Linked DNA regions of Homo sapiens: regions 2, 3 and 4 are each linked to region 1. Evidence: fine-mapped expression QTL. A gene starts in region 1. Each other region holds a variant in brackets. All regions are shown on one strand. Distances are from middle to middle.

Region 1 (5,827 bases):
TTCACAGGTTCCTGGCATGAGAATGTAAACATCTTTGGAGGCCCATTATTCTGCCTACCACACCAAGACAGTGTTCTTTTTCCATTTACTAACTTCAATTTTCCAAAAACACCTTAGTTCTCTTACAGTTTCTCAATACTAGGAAAAGAAACCATTGGAGAATAACAGTATAAGATTACTGGTAGCAACAATGTGTATTTCAGTTTTTGACCATAAGCTCTGAATCTACTGGAATGACCCTCATACCCAAGGAGAGAAATGAATACAGCCAGAATGGCCACTGCCACATAATCATCTGCTCCTGGATGCATAGAGCCTGAGATTCCTGACTCAGATCCTGGTAAACTGAAGCCATGGAATATGGAATCCAACTGTGGCTATCAGGATAAATGATTCCTGCAATCCAAGTTGGCTAGAAAAAAGGGCCTTCACATTACAATTTTAAAAAGTTAAACTCTTGCAAAATTACTCCAATAAACTTAGACTCATTAATATTGTACAAGGCACTAGGTAATAAAGTTTACGGTCTTTTTAACATTAAAAGTGAAAAGTAAAATGGCTAAATTATAGTAGCCTAATCATTTCATGCCATTACTGAGGATTGACAGGTTGGTTGTTTTAACAGCTGTACAATGCTTAAGCTCTAAGGATTCTAAATCTCAAATAATAAAAAGAATAACACTTTGCATGAATGTTTTTATGAATATATCTCAGACATACTTTCTCACAGGCACTCTTTGTTAAAGATAATTATTATGTTTCAATCAGGAGCCACAGAGTAAAAAATTACAACGCTGGCTAAAGGTCCTATACAATCTGAAGCTAAATATGAAGCAAAGTAAATGTTTCACATTTGAATCTACTGTCTGACTTCTGGGATAGAAAAAGTCCTGTATGGTGATTAGTATTTAAAACAGGCAAGTCCAATCATTGAATGCTAAAAGATAAATTATATGACAGCATATCAAGCTGACTCTACTATGGTTTCATGTCACACAAAGGTTATGAGAGGTATATCATTTCTTCTGAGCCTTGTTTTTCAATGCACAGTAAGCAATGCTAATTATGAAAAGCAGGCATCTCTTGGGTTAACCAACACCCTCAATTTCTACCTCTGTTCACCTGCTGACCCCTGCCTTGCTCCCACAACACAGCATCTACTGCAAGAGTGATGCTGAGGGCTGTTTCTAGAACCTATGGCTCCCACAGCATCTCTGTATTCTTGCCCAGCACTGCTCTTTAGCAACATTCAAATAGGCCAGCTCTAAGTAAGATCTGACTTAGGAATGGGATAAGGCAGTGTCCCAAAAGGAGTTTTGCTCACATAGCCCCTCAAAGAATTCTGAAAATCTATGCACATATTTTTAAATAACATCTCAACATCCTTAACATAGTTAAGTGTAAACACTTGAAAAAGGGACATCTTTCTGGCGCTCTATGGGTGGTATGCTTGCTTCATATACATATGCATCAGAACCTCAGGGTTGCAGATTTAGCTCATTCAGTATACAGAAAATGTCTGCTACACAACATAATTGGCAAAGCCAATCCTCATTGACAAGCCAATCAACCCAATAAGACTTTCTGTCAAGGCAACTCCGACATTGTTGTTCAATCAAATATAAAGATAGCCCTGGTGACAACCATCTATCTTCTGGAAGCTAAAAGGAACAGACAGAAAAGCACACCTCAGAGTCTTGTCACGGGCTCCTCACTTGGATGAATGGGGAGAATGAAAGGAGAACTGGCAGGCATCACGCATGTTCAGAGGGAAATTAGTTTCAAGCAGAGTTGGAAGATGAGGATCTGAAAATTAAAACCCTTGCAACATTCTATACCCTGTGAAGTCTTGTGGGCCTAAGGGTATGTGCACAGTTTGGAGACTGCTGGGCAACAGAATTGAAATTCCACTCTGAAAGTATCTAATATAATGCAAATATAAGGTGTTATTTTTAAACCAAAAGCCTCTCTGCATTTCTTTGAGGCATCCTAAGCCTTTGGAAATTTTTAAAACAGGTATCATGTTCTCTTCATCAGAATGGAGGGTCAACAAGAGATTATAATCTTGCTGGTGTAGCCAACCAACTGTATAGTCTTGGATAAACAGTTCAGGGAGTCCCAGGAATTGGTTCTACAATTTCTCTGAGTGCTTTAGAACTTCATTGCTTTTGTTTTAAGCCTCTTCCTAATAATCTTTTAGCGTGTGTCTTAGTCACCTTTACCCTGAAATTCCTAGGTCCATCCATGAGTTCATTATTGGGCCTTATGCCCATGTTCTGTTCTCCAGGGAGGTTGAAGAGGGCCTTTTAGTGCCAGAAATAGAAAAACTTTCAAAATGATATACTAATAATAACCTGCACCTGTCAAGATTATCATATTGTGCCAACAGAGGAGCTGCTTATGCAAACTACTGTAAATTTGTACATGGGAAGACAGAGAAGTGTGTACAGTCACCTTGGAAATGCACTTTGAACATCTCTGTCTCCTAATATGTACGGGGTAAAGGTTGAAAGTAAATTATTGACAATGGGGGAAAAAAACAGATGCAAAGAAGACAACTTTATTAGGTGCTTTCTCTCCCTTATGAGAAGGATTTGGTTCTTTCAGGTGAAGTTCCAAATCACTAGACAATACCCAGTTTCCTTCAGTTGCAACAAGTTCATCCCACGGTGGGTGCTCTGAAAAGCACCTTGAGGGCGAATGGGTCTCAGGCCATTCAGGATCAGGTCCGATGCTTTTGTTGAAGATTCTTCCCGTGTCACCTCTTAGAAGCAGTTCGGTGTCCCCCTCCAAAGAGCCCACCACCTGGCTGCGCCCCACCTCCATTTGTCCCCCAGTTGCCAGGTAAGGGTACCCAGCTACCAGGTAACGGTGAGTGGTTCAGAAGGTGCCGCTGCGGGGGCAGCCAGGCCTTCACACGCAATCACTGGGGAAGAGGCGAGGACACGGGTGGATGCTGGAGGCGCGCACGTGCGCAGGTGCTCGCGCATCCACACACACACACACACACACACACACACACGCACACACAGGCACGGGGTGCGGGGCGAGCAGGGGGAGGGGACGGCCTTACCAGATCAATGAACGTCAGGAATTTCCAGCTCCCTCCGTAGGTCTGGTGTGAGGGCATTTCGATGGCCTTGTAGTTACACAGGATAGAGCAGTAAGACAGCAGGATTGCCATCCGCAGCACCTGGCAGGGGACAAGCGCCATGTTCGCCAGAGGCCTGGACCGGCTGGGCGGCAAGGAGGGCGGGCGTGAGGGAGGCGCCGGGCGCGCGGGGGCGGGCGCCGTGGGAACCCGGGCGCGGGCGCGGGCGCGGGGCGGGGCGGGGCGGGGGCGGGGGCGGGGGCGGGGCGCGCGCCCCCGGGGACTGGCGCGGCCGCGAGCGCCCGGGTGACCTGTACTGGCCGGGCGCGGTTTGCGGACGCTCTCCACTGCCGGCCGCGGCCTGGCAGGCGGCGTGTCGTCATCTCTTTCGTCACCTTCGTCATTCTGCTCCTGCGTTCGCAGGGTCCCGGGACACCCGGCCAGGAGGCGCCCCCTAGGCATCCCAGGTGTGGATGCGACCTCTGAGTGCTACGAGGGCTCGGGAAGTGCGCGCTGATCTCCAGGGGGAAGCGGGCCCTGTGGCTAGTGGGCGCCGGGCCGGGCGAGGGGGCGGGGAACCTAGACTGAAGGAGTGGACCCCAGTGTCCACAAATGTTCCCGCCCCGGAATCGCGGTGACGCTTCCTGGGGTAGTTGCAGTTGGCCGAGAGCTGGTGCCCCGTGCGGAGGGATCCGGTGGGGGTGTGAACGTGGGGTGTAAACCCGAGCACAGGCAGCCGCGAGTGACTTTCAGTATTTTGGGGCAATAAGGTTTTCAGTGTTGACAAACGACTGTCAATCACTAGGAAACTCTCTCAATTCTGCTTTCAATGGGTAGGCTACGCAGCACTTTTCCATGACAGATTGAATAATGTCATATCAGTATATAACATCAGCTAGAATATGAACTTTGGACAAGAGGTTTATAGATAAAAAGCTATAAAGAAAGGATTTTCAAATAACTTTCTGCCACAAGATTGCATTCAGCTTTAAAAAATTCCAATTTTGGATGTAAAACCCCTGCGTGTAATTTAATACTAATCATCTGGTTGTTAAACTGGTTTTGCCCTTACTTTTTTCTTACACTACACTACCAGGGCTTAATGGAAGGAAAATAAATATAAACTGGAGTCCCTCCTGCCTTCCAGTAAATGTTGTCACACTGAAGTTGCATCAGTCTGTGGGCAACATTTTCATTTCAGCCAACCAGTTGCAGGTTCGGATTATGAAAAGGCAACATAGGTATTTCCTGTGGATCCATTTAAAACAGGTGTCCTCTTCAAATAGTCTCTGAGTCAGAGGATGTGGAGGGAGGGCTGGTGGGGAGAAGCATAGTGCTAGAGGTAAAGAGAAAGTAGCAAGCAAGCCATGGATGTTTTCCTGAATGTTTCCAATCAAGCTCTAAACTAAAATGAAGAGACCCACTAGATTTTTTTAATTGGCATTATAATTATGCTAATAGAACTGATGTCAGAAGAAGATTCTACTAGCATTAAAACGATGTATTATTGATGATTTTTGGTTAAATCTTAATGTAAAAGTTGGCTTTATTTTTTTAATTGTGCATCCTTGGTACATGGTTATAAACTGCCAAAAAAATAAAAATAAAAAAGAGTAGATCTATTGAAGATCTACCTACCTTAATAATGTGTCTGGAATTGGTTCCTGCCGGTAGATTAGTGGTCTCAGTGACTTCAAGAATGAAGCGGCAGACCTTGGTGGTAAGTGTTACAGCTCTTAAAGATGGCACAGACCCAGAGTGAGCGATAGCAAGGTTTATTGTGAAGAGTGAAAGGACAAAGCTTCCACAGCATGAAAGGGGACTGGAGCGGGTTGCTGCTGCTGGCTGGGGTGGCCAGCTTTTATTCCCTTATTGTCCTCTCCAGTGTTCTGTTTCTGTCCTATGAGAGTGCCCTTTTTTCAGTCCTCCCTGCGATTGGCTACTTTTAAAATCTTGCTGATTGGTGCGTTTTACAGAGTGCTGATTAGTGTGTTTTACAGAGTGCTGATTGGTGCTTTTTACAGAGCGCTGATTGGTGCATTTTACACTCCTCTTGTAAGACAGGCAAGTTCCCCAAGTCCCCACTTGTCTCAGGAGGTCCAGCTGGCCTCACCTCTCAATAGAGCCTTAATAAAGTTTTATGAGTTAATGTGATATTTGCAAAGTTTGATATACCCTTCCTACTTTACATGTTAGACAATTATTAAGACTCCCCAACCCCATTGTTACAAAATGAAATAATATTTTCATAAAGCCATTTTTAATGGTCAGGTTTTTTGTTTTGTTTTTCTTTTTGTTTTTTTGTGAGACAGAGTCTAGCTCTGTCACCCAGGCGGAAGTGCAGTGGCATGATCTCAGCTCACTGCAACCTCTGCCTCCTGGGTTCAACTATTCTCCTGCCTCAGCCTCCCAAGTAGCTGGGACTACAGGCGCATGCCACCACACCTGGCTAATTTTTTTTGTATCTTTAGTAGAGATGGGGTTTCACCATGTTGGCCAGGTTGGTCTTGAACTCCTGACTTCAAATGATCCACCTGCCTCGGCCTCCCAAAGTGCTGGGATTACAGGTGTGAGTCACTGCGCCCGACCAGTTTCTTTTAAATAAATAACTATAACTCTTAATTAAGTATTTAGAACCTATTCTGCTGGGTTTGCTTTTGTTTTTTCATGATTTGCCAACCATGATCAGATAGTTTTGTGCTTTAAAAAAATGAAGCGTTTGTATAAAACTTGACT
Region 2 (5,827 bases), 180 kb before region 1:
CAAGTCCCCCTAAAAATCTTGGATACACTTTGGGAGGCTGAGGCGGGTGGATTATGAGGTTAGGAGATCAAGACCATCCTGGCTAACATGGGGAAGCCCCGTCTCTACTAAAATACAAAAAATTAGCTGGGCATGGTGGCGTGCACTTGTAGTCCCAGTTACTTGGGAGGCTGAAGCAGGGGAATCGCCTGAACCCAGGAGGCGGAGGTTGTGGTGAGCCAAGATTGTGCCATTGCACTCCAGCCTGGCGACAGAGTGAGATGCTGTCTAAAAAAAAAAAATCTTGGACACCAAAGCCCAGGTGAGCTTCCCTGGTTGACAATATTTCATCCATATTATCACACAGCATCACAGAGAGGAGTTAATGCCCTATAACTCCATGGGGACAGAACAACTGGAAGCACATCTGAGCCCCTTCCAGGCTCTGCTGTATGAGCCTCTTCCCTTGGCTGACATTATTCTGTATCCTTTTCCTGTCATAAACCATAGCCATGAATATAACAGCTTCCAGTGGGTTCTGTGAGTCCTTTTTTTCTGTTCTATTTTTGAAGCCGAGAGTGTTTTGGGAACCCCTGAACTAGCAATTGGTGTGAAATGAGGACATTATTCCTTCTAATTTCACAGTTAGTTCTTTTGTTCATAGTTGGCTAAACCTTTTGCATTCTCTCACTGGCTGTCAAGAGGATTACATGAGTTTTTATATGTAAAACACACAGAACATTACACGGTATGTAAGTGCTCAGTAAATGTTGGCTATTATTTTATGAACTCCACACACAAACATTTACTTATCATTCAATGCAAATTTCTGTGGTGAATGGCTCAAGCAGATTGTCTCATTTAATTCCTGATGTGGTTTGGCTGTGTCTCCACCTAAATCTCATCTTAAATTGCCATGTGTTGTGGGAGGGACCCAGTGGGAGGTGATTGAATCATGGGGGCAGGTCTTTCCTGTGCTGTTCTTGTGATAGTGAATGGGTCTCATGAGATCTGATGGGTTTATAAGGGGGAGTTTCCCTGCACAGGCTCTCTTTTTGCCTGCTGCCACCCATGTAAGATGTGACTTGCTCCTCCTTGCCTTCCACGATGATTGTGAGGCCTTCCTAGCCACGTGGAACTGTAAGTCCATTAAACCTCTTTTTTTTTTTTGTAAATTGCCCAGTCTCAGGTATGTCTTTATCAGCAGTGTGAAAACAAATGAATACAATTCCTAATTAACTGTAAGAGGAAACTGAATGAAACTTAGAGGGCTTCGGTAGTTTACCTAAGTTGAGTCAATTAGGAGCAGAAGTGAGGCCCTAAACCAAGCTTGTCCCACCTGCAGCCCAGGATGGCTTTGAATGTGACCCAAAGCGAATTTCTAAACTTTCTTAAAACGTGAGGAGATTTGTTTTGCAACTTTTTTTTAAGCTCAACAGCTATTGTTAGTGTTAGTGTATTTTATGTGCGGCCCAAGACAATTCTTCTTCCAATGTGGCCCAGGGAAGCCAAAAGATGGGACAACCGTGCCCTAAACCCCGATCTTTGTGACCTGAACACACACCCATATGTCTTGAAAGCCTCTGCTTTTAGCTGATAAGCTATACCGCCTCATAAAATACCTCTGCTGAAGGAATTCACCAACTATGCGTTGCTGTAAGGATTACAGATGATGTTTGCAGGCTCCCAAGGAAAGTGTTCAATAAATGAGAGCAAAAAACATCAAGTTTCCAGTGTTTTTCCTTACAGGATAGAAACACTGAAATGATTCTGTAGGAAAAAGCTGGATGAAGAGCCCCACTTTTGGGACTGCTTCAGCACCCTCATCCCAAACTTGTTTATTTCTTTTCAAAGCAATTATCATTCTGTATGACTGTAGCTTTGGGAGGGGCAATATTTATTCTTGATTGGATTTTTGTACTGACATATGAAATGAATAAACATTTCAGTTTCTGAATTAGAGTGTATCAAATTCCATTATGGTATCAATAAAATGAAAGAAGCAGTAAATTTAGTGCAGAGCCTCAGGGGAAAAAATCAAATCACCATGAAACTCTACACACTCAAAATCTTCTCTGGAAGCTGTGTTGCTTTTTCTTTTTGTATACTTCTGTATTTGTTAAAAAAGAAATTCAGACTTTGGATAGTGGTAGGACTTTCCACTGAAATAAACTGAATAATACCTTCCATCTACCTTGAATGGTTATTGTAAGCATCAAATGATATAATGTATGTGAGAGAAAGTGTTTTGCCAACTATACTCTACTAATATAAGAGATTATTATAATATTAACTTGGGTAATGTTCAATGTTTTACTGAATAAACCCTTGTTCATTAACTGGGCTTCGAGATGGGTGACCCACCGTTCTCCAACTAAAAGAGACAATGGCTGCTGATCCTTAATGATGCTGATTTAGTGACAGGGATATTACAGATTTGTTTTGTTTTTCTACTTTGAAGGTTAAACTGTTGTTCAAATGAAGGACTGAGCATATTTCCTTCTTAGAGTAGCTATTTAAATATAATGACCTCTCAGAGAGTGAAGGTAAGTTCAAGTGCTTTGGGTTGTGAGAAAGGCTTTAGTGGTAACATAGCTTGGAGCTTGTGAACCCCAAGCTGAATTTATACATTTTTCAAAAAAAGAGGAATTAACTTGATATTGTAACATATCACAAAACACCTGATAAGACACTGAGATCCCAAGATTTCTCTAAAGAGCCTGCACAGACAGCACCTCTTTGCAGTTAAATCAGCTCTCCAGACTATACCTTGATGCTCACAGTGTTTTGTTTATGAAACTTCAGAGCAAACCATTGAAGGTGAAAGCCTTCTCTTTGCTATATCATCTGCTACAAGTATATAGTGCATTCTCAGCAGTGACATTATTAAAGCCCATACCCATGTGATCCATTTAGTACGTTATCAGAGCCTACTCAGTGTGCTGTGAATTCATGCAGCCCTTGGAATAATCTCATGGCCCCCAAGGGGTTTACATACCTTAGACTGGGATTTTTTCTGCAAGAAAAACCCTTAACATCTTACCTAGCAATCAAAGAGGTCAAGGTCTTGACCTGAGGCTGCCCCCCAACCTCTTGCTATTCCTCCACTCAGCCCCTAGGCTGGGGAAGCACCTGCAAAGTCCATGCCATTTACCTCCACCCCTTGTCTACCTTGATTGATAAGGGAACTCCCACATCCTGCCAATCTCGTCTGTGTTCATTTCCTCCGGGAAACACTCCTTACCTCCTTCAGGAATAGTTATTCCTCCTTCTGTCTTCCAGTACCATTTAACATATACATTCTATCATTTTATCTCACAATATTATAACTGCTGCTGGGTATGATTCCCTCAATAATCT[G/A]CCAGCTATTTGAGGGCAGGTGTCATGTGTACTCATCTTTGCGTTACTAGTGCTGATCATAGAAAGTAAACAGGTTTCAACTCATGACCCAGCTGTCATGGCTTGAAAGGACCTGCCTGAAGCACTGAGGTGAGAAGGATTTTGATGGCAAATCTAGGCCTGGCAGGAAAGAGTGTTGTGATGGATTAGCTATGTCTGTATTGGCAGCAGGAGGGGAGATGAGGTATGAGTGCCACATATGCAGTCTTCCCATAGAGGTGTGTGCTTGATAATGTTGGGATATGTTTTCCTATTTCACCCTCAGTGGTAGTATGGCAGTTCAGGGCAATACTTCTGAACCATAACCAGGTGGCAACACAGAGTTCTTTTTCTTCTTGATCAATTCATCGAAAGTCTCCTTCCTCCACTGTCCTATATCAATACTTTAACAATACCTATGTTACCACTGTCTACTGCCAAATAAAATGTACAAGTTAATTTGGGGTGACTTAAGATCAGATATCTTGAAAGATGAGATGTCACCTGGTAAAAAGATTCCGGGCATTTTGTAGTCTATGATACTTTATTGGGTTATTTTTAACTGGGAGGCTATTCAATGAAAAAAATAAAAGGCTAGGGTTCCAAGCAAGTGTATAATTATGGGAAGCACCTTGCTAATTCCAAGAATGTACAGGCTTCCTTTTTTTGAAACTTCTATTAGTGTTATTTTCATAATCTCATTTGGCATAGAAAGAATATCACTCCTGATGATGCATTCTAGAATTATTTATCTTTTATTGTCCTCTTGAATTGTTTTAGATAAGTGGTGAATGTCTTATTATAATTCCAACTCTGCATGTAATAAGGCTTTAGCACCTACATACCCAGCTGCAAATGTTCCCACATCATCAACTGATTATTTATCAAGTACTGAAAAGAAGTTGGACCAAGGATTTTTTTCTAAAAGGAAGATAGTGAATTTATATAAGCCTTGTGGAGTATGAAAAACACCGTCTAGCCTGATCTCAGGAACCAGCTCTATCTGCCCACAAACATTTTGTAGATCTAGGATGGAAATAATGTTGGCAGAACCCAATAACTCTAGTGGGTCATTCATATAGGCCATCAGATAGGCGCTAGTCTCAGTAACAGCACTTCACCTTCTACAACCACACGCAACCTGGGATAAGAGAGACAAATACCCCAGGACCAGCAAGGGCTCTCCATGGGGGCATATCCGCAGCCATGATGTCGCATGCACTTCCTGCAGAGATGCATGAAACATTACTATTTGTAAAAAATGGAAGTGTTTTGTGTCAGGCTAATGGGTGCTAAGTTTATCTTTCTTGGATTTTCCAAGCTTAAAAAAACTAATTTAGGTTTATCTGTAGGTGCCATCTTTCTGAGACTTCTTGGGCATGTGGTGACTCAGCATATGGATTTAGGATTCTCCTAAGCACCCCTATAATGGCACTGGGTCACTAACTCTAACAACGTGGCTGCATCAAAACAACCCATGGTTTAGAGTTAGACAGAAATGGATGTCGATACTGGCTCTGCCAATAACTAGCTGTGAGATTATGGTCATGTGATTTTACCTCTTTGTACTTTGATTAACTTTTTCATCTGAAAAATGGGGATAATGCCCCCTTCCCCATATAGTTGTGGGGATTAAACAAAGTTACATATAAAAACTGCCATACAGTAGAGTTTCAAAAAGCATAGCTATTTTATTATTATGGTTGTTATTATAGAAGGGTTATCACGTCCGCTAATTTGAGCTTGGTCATGAAATATAGTGGCTTGGGTTCTATTTTCCTCATATTACACAGCAACCCTGCCACTCAGTCTTCAGTTTGTTTTCTCTTGCCAGTGACTAGAATCCCTTGTTGTTTCTGAAATTTGGCTGCGTTCTTGCTTCTCCTGGCCTGAGGATAACTTCTCCTTACATTGCTATTGCTCGTGCTCATTCTAAGCCCTTCTCCCTACTGCTTTTCCTCTTTATCCTGGAGGGGGAGACGTGTCGACAGAGATCAAAACACAGCTGTGTGACTTAGGGATACACAGGTTGAGTATCCCTTATCCAAAATGCTTGGGACCATAAGCAGTTTGAATTTTGGAATATTTACATACACCTAATATCTTGGCGATGGGACCCAAATCTAAACATGAAATTCATTTATTTTTTACATATGCCTTATACACACAGCCTGAAGGTAACTTTACATGATATTTTAAACAATTTTGTGCATAAAACAAAGTTTGTGTTAGGTATCTCCATGTGAAGTTTTCCACTTGGGGTGTCTTATCAGTTCTCAAAAAGTTTTGGGTTTGGGAGCGAGCATTTCAGATTTTAGGTTTTCAGATTAGGGATGCTCGACTTGCATTGCTTAAATGCTCTGTGCTTCAGTTCCCTCACCTATAAAATAGGGAGAAAAACAGAACCCACCCACAGGGTTTTCCTGAGTATTATAATGAGTTGATGTTTGCAAATTCCTTAGAACAGTGC
Region 3 (5,827 bases), 270 kb before region 1:
TTTTCCCCCTGCAACTTCTCCCTTACAGAATGGGAATGTATATTCTATGCCTGTCCCACCATTCTGTTTTGGAAGCAGATAACTTTTTGTCTGGTTTCCCAGGTTCACACACAGCTAGAGAACAATTTTGCTTCAGGATGACTCATACCCTGAGTGTCACGCATACCCAATTTTATGATATTTAAGATGAGATTTTGGACTTGAGAGTTGATGTCTGAAAGACGTTTGGGGTTGTTGGGATGGAATATTTTCATTGGGTGAAGGACATGTATTCTGGTGGGGAGAGAGTGAAGTATTATGAGCTGAACTCTGTCCCCCACTTCCAAATTCATATGCTGAAATCCTAACCCCCAGGATGTGGTTTTAAAGTCAGAATGTGACTTTACTTGGAGATAAGTATTTACAAATGAGGTCATCAGGGTGGGCCCTAATCAAATACAACTGGTATTCTTATACAAAGGGGAAATTTGGAGACTGGACTGAACATCAGTTAGAAGGCACTGGCTCTGCCATCACCTGTTCTGGAGGGTCACTTAAGATTTTGGGGCCTCAGTTACTTTTGGTGAAAGGAAAGGGTCGGTTTCGATGATTTCCAATCTCTCTTTCAGCAGTAAGATTCTGCAATAATGTGATTTTTATCTTGAAGTTGTAGCTAACATAAGTTACCCAAGTAGACAGAGTTGAGCTATTAAAAACCATTATGGAAAAAGGAGGGTGGCTCCAATGCAATCTTCCTTCTTCTTGGGGGATTGTATAGTAACTGATGTGAAATACTCAGGATTGTAGTACTGTACTCCCATGTCCTCAATTCATCCTAACACACTGCTTTTAGTGAGTAGTTTTTGACTCAACAGCTAACAGAATCAGGCAGCTAATGTGACTGAGTAAAGTGGCCAGGTGAGAACGAGGGAAAGTTAGTCATCTAAAGTGGATAACTGATACTCAATTCTTTTTTCTTTTCTTTCTGTTTTTTTTTTTTTTTTCTGAGAGTTTCACTCTGTGGCTCAGGATGGAGTGTGGTGGCACGATCTTGGCTCACTGCAACCTCTGCCTCCAGGTTGAAGCGATTCTCGTGCCTTAGCCTCCCAAGTAGCTGAGATTACAGGCATGTACGCCCGGCTCATTTTTGTATGTTTAGTAGAGATGGAGTTTTGCAATGTTGGCCAGACTGGTCTTGAACTCCTGGGCTCAAGTGATCTGCCCACCTTAGCCTCCCAAAGTTCTGAGATTACAGGTGTAAGCCACCGTGCCCAGCCAAGGGATAACTGATACTCTATTCTAAACCATTGTCACCAGAATAGAACAGTGGGCTCTGTGTTCCAGATCTTAAAATATTTCCTAAGAAGCTGAAAATCTGGCCTTCATGTGAAATCTCCTATTTTTTTTTTTTTTTTTTTTGAGATGGAGTCTTGTTCTGTTGCCAGGCTGGGGTGCAGTGGCATGATCTCAGCTCACTGCAACCTCTGCCTCCTGGGTTCAAGCAGTTCTCCTGCCTCAGCCTCCCGAGTACCTGGGACTACAGGCACACGCCACCATGCCTGGCTAATTTTTGTATTTTTAGTAGAGATGGGATTTCACCATGTTGGCCAGGATGGTCTCCATCTCTTGACCTCGTGATCCACCTGCCTCAGTCTCCCAAAGTGCCGGGATTACAGGCATGAGCCACTGCGCCCAGCCAAAATCACCCAATTTTAAAATACTGATTCAAAAACAAAAATTCCACGATGTAGGCCTAACAGAACTTGATAGGTAGAAGTTGGGGGAGGCCAGCAGTTTGTGACCCCTCTTGTAAATGAGGATGATACTTACTTGGCACAAAACATCTGTCTTTGTGGAACTAACTAGATGGTCCTAGGTACATAAACTTAATTTTCATATCTAAAATGAATTTTTAAAAAAAGTTAGTCAATCTTATGTTACTTAAAAGAATGGCATAAATTAAACAAATCATTCAAAAAACCTTAATTTCATTATTCATTTTTAACTCCTCATTCAAAGCTGCTAAAAAGCAGTATTCTATTAATGTAGAGTGGATATTTCTCTCTAGTGGTTTTCAGGTCATCCTCTCATAGAAGTAGTAGAACTGTGGCCAAATGACTGTCAAATCAATCAAGTCAAGTGTAAGCAGGTACTTAAGTACTTCCTGAATAACATATATTGGACACATTCGTTTAAGTTTAAATACAGTTTTTCTTCCAAGAAGCTGAGAAAGGTTTATATTTTGTTCTCAAAATATTTTTGTCAAGTAACTAAATACTTCTGTAAATTAATGGAGAAAGATCACTATTTCCATTGAACAGGTGGAACATTATTAAAAGATTAGTGTCTTGTTCCCCAAGCTGTGGCCTGAACAGAATTAAAAATGTTGATACTTTTTCTAATAGAACATTGATTAAAATCAAAAGCTGATGAGAAAAGAAACCCTCAAATTCCTCTGCGCCATTTAACATTGGCTAATACCCTGACACATACAATCTTAGAGGATCCACACACACAAAAGTCTGATTCAGTAACCATGCACAGTAACCATGCACTCACTGTGCGTTATTTGTCTGATTCCATTGAGCTCCTGGCAGGGTGTCTGGCACAAAGCAGGGTGCTCAATGTCTGTGTCACAGAGTCCATTTACTGGGGATGTCTAGAATGCTGTGATTGTGTCAGAGGAAAGAGCCAGGGCTTCCTAAAATCTCCAAACCATCTTGCCTTTGGATGTATTTTCATGCAGGACTCAATCACTACATGTCTGTGCTGGCGCTTTTTCCACCTTTCAATTTTTATGTTATTGTACATACACTTTGGACAGGTTTTGCACAGCTTGGATAAGATTACGTGCCTTGCCAAGATGGAGGCTCTGCCATAAATGGAAACAAAAGAGAAATCAAATCACAGGTTAAAAGAGTTTTTCCAGCCACGAAATATTATCTTTTACTGCTTGTAGCTCTTTGCCACTTTCAGACTTTCCGTGACAGCCACTGGTGAGTCAAGGTGGCCGGAGCATCACACACTGCTTAGATAGAGCTCTAGCAGAATGGTAGTAAGACCTCTCCCAGGTGACTGCACCCACATAGAAAGTGGAGATCTGGGTGACTTTAAAGGAGATTGGTTACATTTAATAATGTATCTATTTAATTTGAGGTCCCTTTAGCTAACTAAGGCAGCATTGTGTTGTTAATGAGGACAAATTTCCCTAATATATATTTTTTGCTAACACTACATTTTTCCCTATAAAATTTTATAGACAT[G/A]CCTCTTTCCTCTTTAGATTTGGAGGTTTTACTAGCTAACAAGACCAAGTGACTAGTAAAACTTTCAGGTAACTGTCAGCAGCTCTTAAATTCATATTGTAGTTTTAAAAATGGAGCTCTTTATAGGAGATCCTGTGTGAAGGCTAAAAGAAGAGGCTACAGTGGAATTTTCCCTCAGTCTCTGCATAGACTGTTGCCGGCAGTAATTCTCTTGTTTTATGTTCCCTCAGACAATACTTACTTTTCTGTGTATCCCAGATATAGTTGTTCAGAACTTCTCCCAGCAGGTACAGGAAGTTCATTAAGATGGTTGTAGACCCAAAGAAGATGATTCTGGCTCCTGGGCCAATGTGTTCCAGGAAAGGGTACACCCACATGCCAGTTACATGATGCACCCAGCACACCCTGCAAAAGAATCGGAAAGGAGACAAGGACAGGAGTCACTCTTATGGCAGGCATCAAAGCTGCTATGATGCAAATATACACTCCCTCACTCTCCCCATGCTTCAGCATTTGCCAGTCTCAAGTTCGCTTCTGATACTCAGGAGCTACTGGAAACTTGGTTGCTGTTTATTTTCATTTACTTTTTATTCTGAAATAATTTTAGACTCACAGAAGAAGCACAACACACTCAGCTTCCCCTCATGTTAACATCTTGTATAATCCTGGGACAATTGACTAAAATTAAAAAATTAACATTGATATGACAGTACTAAATTATAGGCTTTATTCAGAATTTCCCAGTATTCCTGTGAATGTCCTTTCTCTGTTCCAGGATCCAATCCAGGACCCCATGTGGTCTTCAGTCTTCACATCTCCGCAGTCTCATACTCTGGCAGTTTCTCAGTCTCTACTTGTCTTTGATGATATTTGAAGGGTATTTGAAATGGCTGACTTTATTAACACTGTTAAACAATCTGGTCATGTATTTGAAATGGCTGACTTTATTAACACTGTTCAACAATCTTTTAAATCTCTTCTTTACAGAATGAGACAATATGGCATTGGGCAACCACAGGAGAATAAGACCTAGGTGAGTCTGTGCCAGATACCTTGCCATATGGCCTTCCAACTAGACACCAACACTCATGCCATATGCTGACACAACCATGCATACCCTAGCAGGTACCAGCTTCCCACTCCTCTGATCTTCAGATGTGACATTGATTTCATTTTTTTTCCTATTTTACATTCTTACTTAATCATTCTCTTTGTGTTCCAGAAATATTTTTGACTCAGTGGGAATAGTAACATCATGAATTGCCACTGCTTTCAAAAGTTTAGTTAGAATATCGGCTCCATTGGCTTGGTCCTGACATGACTGCTTACAGCTGTTTTCCAAACATTCTTGAGTTCATTCCTTTATAAACTGTTGGCAATTGTGAAGACTAAATAAAATACAGATAACTCTATTGCATTGGGAATAAAGATGACTTTTCATACTTATGTGTTCTGAGGTCATTTTCCTTATCCTTGGCTTCACTCTAAGTGGTTTATCTACATATAAATATTACTGACAGGGTGCAGTGGCTCACATCTGTAATCTCAGCACTTTCGGAGGCTGAGGAGGGTGGGTCACCTGAGGTCAGGAGTTCAAGACCAGCCTGGCCAACATGGCGAAACCCCATCTCTATTAAAAATACAAAAATTAGCTGGGCGTGGTGGTGCGCGCCTGTAATCCCAGCTACTCGGGAGGCTGAGGCACAAGCATCACTTGACCCTGGGAGGCAGAGGTTGCAGTGAGCTGAGATCACACCACTGCACTCCAGCCTGGGTGACAAAGTGAGACTTGGTCTCAAAATAATAATAATAATAATAATAATAATAATAATAATAATAAACATTACCTACACATGTACCTCATTTTTGGCAGGAAACCTGGGGATCTATACCTGAGAACCTGCGTTATCAATGAGGGTGAGATCCCCCCTCTTCTTGCAGGCGAAAATTCATTCTGGGGTTGGTGGTAAAACAATTTTGCACTTTTTATGTAGAAAGCACAGATACACACACACACACATATACACACACACATATATACACACACACAGATGTACATATATGTATATAGAAACACATCAGTAGGTGAACAAACAATCAAATGTGGCATATGCATGCAATGGAATATTACTCAGCCATAAAGAGGAGTAAAATGTTGATACATGCTACAACATGGATGGACCTTGAAAACATTATGCTAAGCAAAATAAGCCAGACACAGGTCACATATTGTATATGATTCCACTTATATGAGGTACCTAGAATAGGCAATTTCACAGAGACAGAAAGCATGGTATCTATCAGTTACCAGGGACTCGGGGGAGTGGAGAATAGGGAGTTATTGTTTAACGGGAACAGAGTTTATGTGGGGGGATGATGAGAAAATTTTGGGTATAGATACTGGTGATGGTTACACAATGTTGTAAATACATTTAAGGACATTAAATAGTATACTTGCAAATAGCTAAAATGACAAATATTATGTTATGTATATTTTAGCACAATAAAAAATGTTCCTGTGGTGGAAATTAGGAAAAAAAAAACAGGTCTACAAAGGTTCCTTGGTAGAGGGAAGTAGTAATGAA
Region 4 (5,827 bases), 54 kb after region 1:
GTTTACCAAAATATAGCCTAAACAGGGGTGTCCAATCTTTTAGCTTCTCTGAGCCACATTGGAAGAAGAAGAATTGTCTTGGGCCACACATAAAATACACTAAGACTAACAATAGCTTATGAGCTAAAAAAAAATAATAATTGCAAAAAAACCTCAAAATGTTTTAAGAAAGTTTATGAAATGTTTGTGTTGGGCTGTATTTAAAGCTGTCTTGGGCCACATGAGGCCCGTGGACTGTGGGTTAGACAAGCTTCGTAGAACCATCCTTGAGGCAATATGGGTATTGTTTTAGCAAACCCATTACTAACAAATTGAACATTTGGGATTTTAACAGTAACCTTCTTTCCTGAAACTTATTTATTTATTTATTTATTTGAGTCAGCATCTTGCTCTGTCCCCCAGGCTGGAGTGCAGGGGCTCCATTTCTGCTCACTGAAACCTCCGCCTCCCATGTTCAACCAATTCTCGAGCCTCAGCCTCCCGAATAGCTGGGATTACAGGCGCCTGCCACCATGCCTGGCTAATTTTTGTATTTTTTGTAGAGACAGGATTTTACCATGTTGGCCAGGCTGGTCTGGAACTCCTGACCTCAAGTGATCCACCCACCTAGGCCTCCCAAAGTATTAGGATTACAGGTGTGAGCCACCATGCCCAGCCCATGAAACATTTAAATATTACTTATGTACCACTCTACGCATCCAGTTTAATAATCTGAGTGATCATAGGTAATTGAGTGCTCCCTTGAACAATAAGCATCATTTTTTATGTGCTGCGATAGTTATCACAGATGCTTCCAGCCACTTAATCCCTGCGGTGTGAAGGTTACATTTCAGATTGAGGTTTCCAGTAAAGGTATAAGAAAATCTTAAATGAATACCCAAAGCATTATTTATTTTTTTTTTAGAAGCCAAACTGAATTTGTGGAAGAAAAATAAGTCAGCGTTTAATGGATGGAACAGAGAGTGGAAACATCTGACAGAACAGTAGGAAACTTTGTTCTGTTTTGAACGCCTCACCACTACTCATACCATCTGTCATGCATTTCTCATGAAATAAACAATTTTCAGAATTTTTTTGTCCAGGGAAGAGACATTTTGTGTTTTATTGATTTATTTATCCTATGTAGACTTAAGGTAATGACATTTAAGAAAATAACTTTTGAAGGAGATACTTTTATCAAAACAGGTAGTACTTGTTTTATTTGAAAGCCTTTCTCAAGGACATGAGATGGGGATACACATTATAATTCATAGATTGAATGGGAAATGTGGGGGGCGGCTTGGAAAGAGAGGAAGTGATGCCGAGAGCAAATACTGAATTTCCTGCCGTTTTTATTTCCCAAAATCAGAGTGGCTGAGAAAGGGCTGGCTGAGAGAAGGAGCTGGGGGAAAGAAAAGGAAGGATGACTTTTCTCCAGGGCTGGGTTGGGGGGGGTCTCCTTCATAAAATTTTTGAACTGTCGCCACAATCTGGCAATATTTTTATGCCAGAGGAAAGAGGACATTCTCCTCGTTATTTACGGTTTTCATCGGATGTCTCAGTTGATTGTACAAGTTTCTTCCGATCATTCCATGTGTGAAAATTAGCTTTTCTTAAATAGTTATCTTAATAGTCCAGGGCGTTTCCATAACAGTCCAATAACACCCTTGACGTTGAATACTAGTGGCTTAATATGTTTTCAACATTCTGTTTCTATGATTTTTTTTTCTGTGTAATAACTTTCATCTTCAGTTTTCAACTTCTTGTTTCTTCTATCCTACAAGTGCTATTTTTCCCATCTCGAGGAGAAGAATGTTGTGTTATTAGGTTCTGAATGGAGTCTCAACTTCAATGCAGTTCTGTGTTCTTGGGCAAGTTCCTCAACCTCGTGTTTCTTCAATCATCTATCTGCTCCTCGTGGCTGTGGTGAAGGTTGAATGAGATAATATATTTAGAGCATCTGGTTTGTATTAGGAAATAAATGTTTATTCCCTCCCCACACTGTTTCCTCATTGTTCCTATTACTGAGTTCATCTTTCCTGTCCTGGCTTTCATCCCTGGGTCTCTCCTCTTCCCCTGTGTTCATGGCACCGCTTTGTCCTTCTCATGGATGGGACAACAACAACTAACAAGACAGAGGGGCTGTGGGCCGAGGTGACTCCCCCTACGTTTCGCTATGCGCAATACAATTTTAAGGCTTCACAATTTGTATTTCATAAAGCAATAAAAAGCACTGGGCGTTAAACCACCAGAGCTATTCTGGCCTTTGCTCATGGTTTTGAAATCAGATTTATCCTTCATCTACATACCTCACTATCTTCTGAGGTCCAGCCATATTTTGTTGCTTTCTTCCTTCAAATCCCACACCTTCATCATATCTTTATTTGTAATCTCATTATCCTTTTGCTTTCTATTAACATTTCCCCCCACCCCCCTTTAGACTCTCCTCAAATTGGCTATCCATTTGAAAGTAACAGTGATTTCTTCTGGTTAAATACGGTGGCCTTTCATCTCTAAATTTTATCTACCTGTACTGGTGTGGATGAGAATTACCAGGATTAACACTACTCTGTTCTGTGGTAGCTCCTGTGTCTTCACACCTCTCATCCCTGCCCTGCATTCCCATACATGGCCCAGCTTCAACTAATGGTGTCTCTTTACCTAAGACACCTTTTGTAACCATTTCTTTTCTCTTTTTCTAGG[C/T]GCCAAAAAAACCTCAAACTCCACTCATTTTCTATTTTATTCACAATGACATCTTCCTCTTAGAACCTCCTGTAAATCCTTGTGGTCTTTCCCTCCCGTCATTTACCTTGTATTAGCAACTATACTGAAATATTAAAATGCGATTTTCATTATTACTACCTTGTTCAGAAACTTGCCTCTCAATTGACAGTTTCTTAAGGTTAGTATGGAAACTAAGTTTCAAGGCTTCCCAGCCAGTAATGCCCTGTGATTTGCTTCGTCCTTATTTTTCTCTGAATACTCTTTTCCAGAAAGGCTTCTAGGTATGTAGAAGAGAATCCTGTAACGGACACATTACTTTGGCTTTTCCTTGGCCAGTGGTAACAGGTAGGGAAGCACGTGCAGAATTATCAGAAACCACAGAGGAGAAAGTGGAGAAAACAACTTTGTCTGTGGCTCCATGTGCTAATTTACATCAAGACAACAATGTACTCACTAGCTTTTCTCAAAATCAGAGAATTGTTCAGGGCTATTTAAAACCATTAAGATTGTTTGCTATTACTTCATACAAACAAGCCCCTGGCCAAATAACAATAACTTAGCTTTCTAGCTCTGCTTTTTTTTTTTTTTTCTTGAGATGGAGTCTCACTCTGTCTCCTATCTCCTAGGCTGGAGTGCAGTGGTACGATCTCGGCTCACTGCAACCTCCGCCTCCTGGGTTCAAGTGATTCTCCTGTCTCAGCCTCCCAAGTAGCTAGGATTACAGGCGCATGCCACCACACCTGGCTAATTTTTGTATTTTTAGTAGAGATGGGGTCTCACCATGTTGGCCAGACTGGTCTTGAACTCCTGACCTCAAGTGATCTGCCTGCCTTGGCCTCCCAAAGTGCTAGGATTACAGGCATGAGCCACCACGCCCGGCTCTTGCTCTGCTTTTTAACAGCACTAAAGCCAAGTATTCAAAGCAAATGTTTCTCATGAGCCCTTTTCCAAGAACCAGTCTAATGGCTTCCATGCTGTTAATTGTGTTTATTACAAGGGCTGGTAACTTAGTACTCACATTCCTAGTAGACGCAAATACTTATGCTGACATTTGCGTTGGTTTGGCATGATCCCCATAGTTTCTGCATGAGAACAAGGCTGACTGGCCCATTTTCAACTAGCATTCCCAAGTATTCAGAAGGGCTTCTTCTCTCTCACCCTCCTTGTAGTTTCCCTCACTTCACATTCTCTCTAAATCCTTTCCTTCCAATATTCATTGAGCCACCAAGTTGATGCCTTTTTCACATTGTGTTTGCACAGTTAAAGCTAGGTTGGTCTCCCTGCCACTAGTCCTCAGACTTTAATCTATGCCACCTGTCACAGGGAGCTTAGATTTCCTAGGGCAGAGTTGGAAGTCCTTCCTCCTTCAAAACTTGATTGTTCTCCATTCCGGAGGCCATGAGTTGTGGCAGTCAGGGTCCTGCACTTGTCCAGCATCGTGACCCCAGATGCAAAGAAAACTTACACTTTGTATGTATAGTGTCTTCTCCTGACCCTTTTTCAGGAAGATCCTTCCACCCTACTTCCCATTCTCAGTTTCTTAAACTTACTTATCCTTTAAAAACAACCCAGACAAAAATTCTACCTCCTCCGTGAGGCCTTCCCAGGATTCCTTTAAAAATGGGCTCTTATGAATTACAATTTTTGTTACCCATATTATAGATACAAGATTATTTAAGGCTCTAGCTCTATCAGGTGAGCTGACACTTTATCTTGCATTTATAATTATTTTCTGATTGCTTCAAGAGTCTCTATCAATTAAAATCTTGCCTTATTATCTATAGTTCTTGTTTCATTCTTTCCTAATATGTTAATCAGGAAATACTGGCATATCTTTTAAAAATGCTTATGAGACAGTGATATGTTGGGTTCACCTTGGCCAGTTAAGACATAGGATTTAGAAAATAGGAAAAGGCAGGTGAGCAACATATAATGATTGAATAGATACATTACTATACAAACAATATATATGTTTTCTTTCTTTTAATTCGTTCTCCACACTGTAGCCAGAATGATGTTCCACCTGCTTACGTTGCTTCCCTGCTCAAGCCCTTTAAAATCTCACCATTGCTTTTAGGATGCAGAAACCCTTAAGACACCTCATTATGATCTGGTTCCTATTTACCTCAGTAGCTTCCACTCCACTCCATGCCACTGATCTTGTCACATTGAACTTGTCTCTCTGATGAGTCCTTACCCTCTCCGGGCCTTTCTAAATGTTGTTACCTCTATGGGATATAATCTTCCTGCCCCTCTGCCACCCTCATTCCTCAGCAAATTCCAACTCATCCTTTGGATCTCTGCTTAGACATCATTTCCTCTGGGAATCTCCCTCTGACTATCCAGGACTCAAACAAGTGCCCTTCCAAGATTCTCTGACAGCTCATGCACTGCTCCAGCATGGGTCTGTGTTATTATTGCCCATTTAGCAGCCTGACTCCCTGACTTGGCTATCTTTGTGAGGGCAGGGCTGTGCCTGTCCTGTACACCAGTTACACCCCAACATAGCCTAGGTTGGAAAGATTTAATTTTATTTATTTATTTAAAAAAAATAACATGTAGCAAGATTTACTTTTATAAGTGAATATATCTCTTTTTCTACCTTTATCTATATCTATCATTATGAATATGTATGTATGAATACATAATAAATATAGATAAATATAATGTTACATATATTATATTAAAAGTAATGGCAAAACAGCAATTACTTTTGCACGAACCGCATATAATATAATTCTTAAGATGATAGGTCTGGTGAGTGACAAGGTGGGTACTCCTGATGTAGGAGGTTGTCTAAATGTGTCTTAGACTAAATATTTTAGAACACTTATACGCTGTCTTAGGACTTCTATCTTTGATAACCCTTCACTTCTGATCTGTGTAAAATGTCTTTCTGATTCCTTTCTGACTTCCTCCTTTAGGGTTATTTTTAACACTACTCTTTTCCAAATATAGTTCCTCACTCTAATAGAATAGTGCTTTATTCTTTGGATACAGTGCATCCATTTTGCACATTATCCTAAGCAAATCTTGCTTTCAATTTTGTTTGGATTTAAAATAAACTAGACTATGGACGTAATGTTTTCAAATTATCCACTCTGTCTTTTATTTTTGCCGCTGT

Evidence for each region. PIP is the estimated chance that this variant, and not a neighbour inherited with it, causes the effect.
Region 2: its variant is the best candidate, but not a certain one, in a credible set for the expression of AIG1 in esophagus mucosa (GTEx, PIP 0.59).
Region 3: its variant is the best candidate, but not a certain one, in a credible set for the expression of AIG1 in thyroid (GTEx, PIP 0.59).
Region 4: its variant is the best candidate, but not a certain one, in a credible set for the expression of AIG1 in whole blood (TOPMed, PIP 0.59).

Annotation. Positions count from the first base shown.
Region 1 is chr6:143,058,313-143,064,139 of GRCh38, reverse strand. It overlaps AIG1 (androgen induced 1), which reads right to left and starts at 3,251. Exons shown (of 6, transcript NM_016108.4): 1 at 3,074-3,251. The coding sequence starts at 3,214. RefSeq lists enhancers at 2,712-2,761, 3,362-3,491, 3,317-4,255 and silencers at 2,952-3,021, 3,272-3,361.
Region 2 is chr6:143,241,594-143,247,420 of GRCh38, reverse strand. All of the region lies in intron 3 of AIG1 (androgen induced 1), which reads right to left. Among named protein-coding and RNA genes, the nearest start is that of AIG1, 180 kb to the right of the region's middle. The variant G/A (reference allele first, on the strand shown) is at 3,340.
Region 3 is chr6:143,331,102-143,336,928 of GRCh38, reverse strand. AIG1 (androgen induced 1) reads right to left here. Exons shown (of 6, transcript NM_016108.4): 5 at 3,484-3,647. Among named protein-coding and RNA genes, the nearest start is that of ADAT2, 120 kb to the left of the region's middle. RefSeq lists an enhancer at 2,763-3,962. The variant G/A (reference allele first, on the strand shown) is at 3,243.
Region 4 is chr6:143,003,948-143,009,774 of GRCh38, reverse strand. All of the region lies in intron 2 of LINC01277 (long intergenic non-protein coding RNA 1277), which reads left to right. Among named protein-coding and RNA genes, the nearest start is that of LINC01277, 31 kb to the left of the region's middle. The variant C/T (reference allele first, on the strand shown) is at 2,683.